2 separate regions of the Homo sapiens genome follow, and region 1 is linked to region 2. A link means that fine-mapping ties the variant in region 2 to the plasma level of a protein whose gene starts in the linked region. Region 2 holds a variant in brackets. A gene starts in the other region. All regions are shown on their reverse strands. Region 1 holds the start of CD109 (CD109 molecule). Region 2 overlaps CLEC4M (C-type lectin domain family 4 member M).

What was found. A credible set is the group of variants that fine-mapping cannot tell apart. PIP is the posterior inclusion probability: the model's chance that the variant is causal. Protein levels are from antibody-based Olink assays in UK Biobank. Linkage for the fine-mapping came from a reference panel and not from the study's own genotypes, which makes the PIPs less certain.
Region 1: CD109 starts here. The variant in region 2 is the best candidate, but not a certain one, in a credible set for the plasma level of the CD109 protein (UK Biobank, PIP 0.51).

The regions. Positions count from the first base shown.
Region 1 is chr6:73,694,407-73,697,312 of GRCh38, reverse strand. CD109 (CD109 molecule) reads right to left here and starts at 1,110. Exons shown (of 33, transcript NM_133493.5): 1 at 1,024-1,110. The coding sequence starts at 1,097. CD109-AS1 (CD109 antisense RNA 1) reads left to right here and starts at 1,182. Exons shown (of 2, transcript NR_110889.1): 1 at 1,182-1,481; 2 at 1,738-2,906. RefSeq lists a silencer at 941-990 and enhancers at 553-1,267, 1,221-1,480.
Region 2 is chr19:7,764,906-7,767,811 of GRCh38, reverse strand. CLEC4M (C-type lectin domain family 4 member M) reads right to left here. Exons shown (of 7, transcript NM_014257.5): 3 at 2,544-2,627; 4 at 1,605-2,174; 5 at 1,005-1,156; 6 at 184-296. Among named protein-coding and RNA genes, the nearest start is that of CLEC4M, 3.1 kb to the right of the region's middle. The variant T/C (reference allele first, on the strand shown) is at 1,532.

The sequences.
Region 1 (2,906 bases), not on the chromosome of region 2:
GCACTCCATACTGCGCCAATTGCAGTTGTTTCCGTTAACATTGCCCACTGCTCTATTTGGCAACTGAATTGAAATGCTACTGAAACAACAATAATTCCCATAAATCAATTTTAATGCAGTAATTCATGCATCACTACTAGAGGAAGGCCTGTGTTATTATTTCCATTTTATAAACCACGAACCGCACAGAAGGAACCATGATGTAAATGGCTTGCACCGGGGCATAATGGAGTTATTGGCAAAGCAAAAGTCTCTAAGCTTCTCCTTTACAGAGGACCTTATCCCAGCGTGATTATTTTCTTGTTGTTGTTGTTATTTTTTAACTAAGATTTTGCCTGTTTCTTATTCAAACCTTTATCCTTGAGTAGCTGCCCAACGAGGGTAAAAAATTATTTAACCAATACCATTGATTGAAATATACCATTTGAAAATAAACTACAACTGGTGAAAATTCCAGGTATAGCGAATCATAAAAGAAGTCACTAAAGCAGCACTTTCTCTGCTATAACTAGGGGTTAGGGCTCAACTACAGAAATCTTTAGGAATGAATGGGGCTTGCCATTATTGGGTGCTGTTGTTTTCTTCCTATAATGTCTGCCCCTGAACCCATACATCAGTCCCCTCCGCCACACTTTGGCAATGCTAAGGTTGAGACATCTTGGTTAGAAAAAATATATCATGTCTTTGAGAGAAGAATCGCAATCTGGGAGCAAAAAGTTGAGAAGCAAAAGGCAGAGGCAATGTGGACTAAAAATAAAATGACTCTCTTCAGAAAGTTGTTATGGCCGGGGAGACGCTTAAACAACTTCATGAGTGGAGAAAGTTAACTGTCCCATGGAGAGCCACGCTGAAGCTACATATGGTCAAACCTCCAGGCCAGTACCAGGCTGGGGACTGCAGCCGCGAGGGCATTTCCCACCCGCTGCTGCACAGCAGCCGCCACCTCCCCGAAGCCCTGGCCCAGAGCCGCAGAGCGGCCCAGGCCCGCGCGCCCGCGCGCCCCCCGCGCGCCCACGTTCCTACCCGGGAGCCACGGCCAGCGCGGCGGTGCACACGCAGAGGAGGTGGGCGGCGGTCAGGAGCGGTGGGCCCTGCATCTCGACGGCGTCTGCCTGGGCTACAGTCCGCTGCCGGGGAAGTTCGCGGGCACCGTGGGGTGTGGCTTGCCACCTCCTCCCTGATTTTTTTTCCCTCTTAATTCGAGTTTAGTAATCTGAAATGGGCGCGCCTAACAGCAGAGTGAGAGATCTAAATTGAGACAGGACTTGGAGGCTCCACCCCTCCCATCCCCATTACAATGGCGCTTCTCGCTGCTGTGGCAAACATCGCAAATCCAGGGGGTGAGAAAGCAGTTGCTAAACGCAGGCGGCCCCACCTGGCCCGGCGTCCCAGCTGGCCGCGGAGAACAGAGCGCGCCCACTTCCCCGGCCCACCGGGTTCCTCAGGCTGTTTACACTAGCGCTCTACCAACGATGCCCAGGGTGAGTAAACAGGCCCATCCTTGTGAGGAGAAATTCATAGCAACTATGTGAAGTGGAAAAAAGTCAATCATTGTCCTCCAGACTATGAGTCAGAATTTTAGAGAAACGGCACACACACACACGCACACACACACGCACGCACACGCGCGCAAAACCGGGGCGTATTTCCTGGGTAGTTATTTAATGTATATGAATGGAAACAGAAAAACTATTTTTCCTTAAAACAAAAAATGAGGTCTACTGCTTTCCTTTCCAGGAAAATGTTATGATTTATCACCTTAAAAAAAAAAAGAAGAAGAGAACTCGCACTGCAGACGTTAGGTGTTGCTACTTGGAACCCTGAAAAAAAATTACCTAAGAAGATGCCTTTATATTTTTGCTACAGAAAGAATTTGGTAGAACTGTAAAGCTTGGAGCAATCTCTGAACACAGTTAGGGTTGGGTTGGCTCTCCTGTCAGAATGAAGGCCAGTGGCCGGTGGTGCCCAGGAGTTATTGATGCCCAACGCTGTCTGGCTTCTTTGCAGCTCCTCTCTCCTGCTCTCTGGCACTGCCACCATCTTCAGATGACTCAGGTTTCACCATGACTACACCATAAAAGCAGGGAACTGCCAGAAACTGTTGGAAAACAGACACATTCAGTCCCTGACAACTTAAACTTTCTAATTCATGGAGCGGTTTTAGATGGTAGCATTCTAATATGGGGCAAAATGCAAACGGAAAAGAGGTCAGCAAAAAGATGTCTCATGACAAAGCTATGTGCTAAATAAGGAAAAGTGAGAAAGTAGCACCTAGACAAACTGTGGTTTGGGGAATCCAGAAACTTGCTTTCCTCCCTTTCCTGTTCCACCCTTTTTCTCCCTGCTGAACAGCTTGCAAAGGTCCTTATGTCCTTTCCTTCAGGCAGCCTATCTTTAGTGGCCAACTTCCTGTGCAGGCAGGACTTAGGAATGGTCAAAAGTGTCTGTGTGGATCCCTGGGTGCTGACCTGTTCCTGACACAGCTGTTACTACTGGTCTCCTCACCTCCGTTGTTCAGAGAGGAGGACCATGGTCAAGGGTGGGCCAAGCACCAAGGTCTAACTCAGTGCTTCTCACATGCCAATGTGTGTGAGAATCACATGAAAACAGACTCTGACTTGGCAGGTCTGGAACGAGGACTGGGATTCTGCTTTACTTTAGCAGACAGTAGGCCATGGAGACTCTACAAGTGGGGGCAATTTGGGGGCAATTTGATGAGCAAAGGCAATTAAGAACACAGAAAATTCTTCTCAATCTTTCACTTCATAAAGGTGGATTAATAAATTCAGGTTCATTCTAGAGGTAGGCAAACATAAGAGGGACTGCAAAAGATTAGATGATAATGTTGCCTCCCGAGAAGACTTACAGAAAGTCTTAGAACCACATTGTATAAATCTGTGTGGATT
Region 2 (2,906 bases):
TCTTGGCACCTTTCATCCTGTCTGGAGGTGGGTATGAAGACCACCTTCCTCAACTCAGTAAAACCCCAGACTCTTAGTCCTATGGGGTCAGGGAGGTTGGGGGGGACCCCCAGGGAAAGCTCAAGTCAGAGTTGCAGGAACCCAGCCCGACTGGATACAGTGTCCCTTTCTCCCAGAATCTACCTGGGTGACAGAGGTGAGCCGTCCACCCATTGCCACGTGCCTTCCTGATTTAGGTCTGAAAGTCCCATCCAGGAGAAGCGGTTACTCCTGGAAGTCTGCAGCTGTAGGAAGTTCTGGAGGGTAGAGGAGGAGTCAGGAGGGAGCTCTGCTTCCCATTTTCCAGGTTCCACCTCCCCGTCTCTTGGCAGAAAGTTCTGCTTTCAAGTTAACCTGCAGTTTTCTGATATAGCAGGTCCTGAGCCTCCTCATGTCTGAGCCCCTCTCACATCTGTATCCCCATGGCATGTGTGTCCTGACATGCAGGCACGCATGCACAGCTGGCCTCTCCTCATGTGCTCCTGTGAATGCTGCATGTTTATCTATTTTGCATGTCCACATGAATTTACTCCTGACTGGGTTTCATGTACTGGAGCCACATTGGACCCACTACTAATTGCTGGTCCAGCACATCTCCTTTCAGCTCTGCACTGAGTGACAGCACATCACAGCTTGAAATCAGCCGCAGTGGAAATATTTACACTGGGGAAATTGGCAAACACAACACATCAGGAATTTTCTCTCCGGAGAGCTGGCCGTTAAACACCTGCAGCATGCTGTGGTGGTTTGCTTACATTTGACGTTTCCCCCAAATATTCACATGTGTTCAGATCTGGTTTGTATTTGCTTGAAGGGTACCTGGGACCCCTTCATTCATATCCTTCTCTTCCCATCTTTCCAAATAGAGCAAAGCCCCTCTTCTGCAAAATCCTCTCTGAGCACCTCCTCCCCAGTTGGCCAGAAGCCATGCCCCAGGCCAGGACGAGGACCCCCACCACGTGTACCTGCTCCTCAGCAGTTTTGATTACGACGAGCTGGGCCCTCACTTCCTGGCAGGCGGTGACGGAGTCGTGCCAGTTCCGCTGGGAGTTAGACATGAAGTAACAGTTTCCTTGGAAGAATGTCCAGTCCTTGGGACAGTGGCGGCACAGGCGTTCTGTTGGGGGAGGCTGGTCAGGGCTGGGCTCAGATTAGGTTGTCCATATTCCCATATCTGCCCAGCCTTCAAGCCCTTGAAAATCAGGGCCCTTCCTTGACTGTCCATGTTGGGTGGACCGCTTGGAATGGGGAGAGACCATTCCTCTCCCTACTTCCCAAGACTCTCCCTGATCCCCAGGAGAACCCAGGAGTCCTGGCTCCATCTCTTCCAGACTGGGAGAATTAGCAGCTTTAGAGCTCAGAACAGAAGGCAGCGGATTGGTTGAACTGAGTGTCTACTGTGTGCCTGGCCCACTGTGAACACCAAGTGCAATGATCGCAGTTACCCCGTGTTCTCATTTCACAGGGGAGGAAACTGAGGCTCAGGCAGGGT[T/C]GGTAACTCAAGTAAAGTCACATCACACAGAGACCATCTCAGGCCCAAGGACCCTTGATGTGCAGGAACTCACCAAATGCAGTCTTCAAATCGGTCAGTTCTTGATAGATTTGCTGCTGCTTGGACTGGTCTGGCAACTCACCCACTGCAGCCTTCAGCTGGGTCAGCTCCTGGTAGATCTCCTGCAGCTTGGATTTCTCTGGCAACTCACCCACTGCAGCCTTCAGCTCCGTCAGCTCCTGGTAGATCTCCTGCAGCTTGGATTTCTCTGGCAACTCACCCACTGCAGCCTTCAGCCGGGTCAGCTCCTGGTAGATCTCCTGCAGCTTGGATTTCTCTGGCAACTCACCCACTGCAGCCTTCAGCCGGGTCAGCTCCTGGTAGATCTCCTGCAGCTTGGATTTCTCTGGCAACTCACCCACTGCAGCCTTCAGCCGGGTCAGCTCCTGGTAGATCTCCTGCAGCTTGGATTTCTCTGGCAACTCACCCACTGCAGCCTTCAGCTGGGTCAGCTCCTGGTAGATCTCCTGCAGCTTGGATTTCTCTGAGAGCTCACCCACTGCAGCTTTAAGCTGGGTCAGGTTCTGGTAGATTGCGTCTTGCTCGGATTGTTCCTGACTTAGGGAGCTGGGGACCTTGGACACTGGGCCAAGAAGAAAAGGAACTGCAATTATTAAACACCTACTGTGTGCCAAGCCCTGAACTGAGCCCCATAGAGACATCATTTGTGAGAGCCAAGGTCTCAGTTAATCCCCTTTGAAGATGAGGAAAACTGACACCTGGAGAAGGCAGCACAGAAGGCCAAGGAGAGCCAGGTTCTTCCCCTCCTCCTCCTCCCTCTCCTGTCCTGCTCTAGAGTGGGGAGGGGCTGTGGGAGAGGCCCCTACAGACCCCCAGGGACAACATCTTGGCTCTCAGTCCCACCTCCCTCCCAGACCTGGCCACTCCAGGCTCTGTTCATAGCCAAAAGGCCAGGCCTGGGGACCCCAGACCCTCAGAACCTGCCCCTGACCTTGGACAAGGATGGCCACCAGGACCCCAGCCAAGAGCATGAAGGAGAGGAGTTGCAGCACCAGGGCGCCATGGCCAAGACACCCTGAGAGAGGATACATGCGTCAGCCTGCCAGTGTTCCCACCTGAGCCTGGCCCAGGGAGAGCCTGGCCTAATCCCTCAGCACCCCAGGACCCAGGAACCCCAGCCCCAGCCCCCTCCACTCCAACACCTGGGAATCCAGGCCCTAGCTCTAACCTCCCCAGGACCCAGGAACCCCATCCCCAGCCTCTCCCTCCCCAAGTCCCAGGAGTTTAGGTCCCAACCCCCACCTCCCCAGGTCCCAGGAACCCAGGTACCTGCGTCCACCTCCCCAGTGGAACA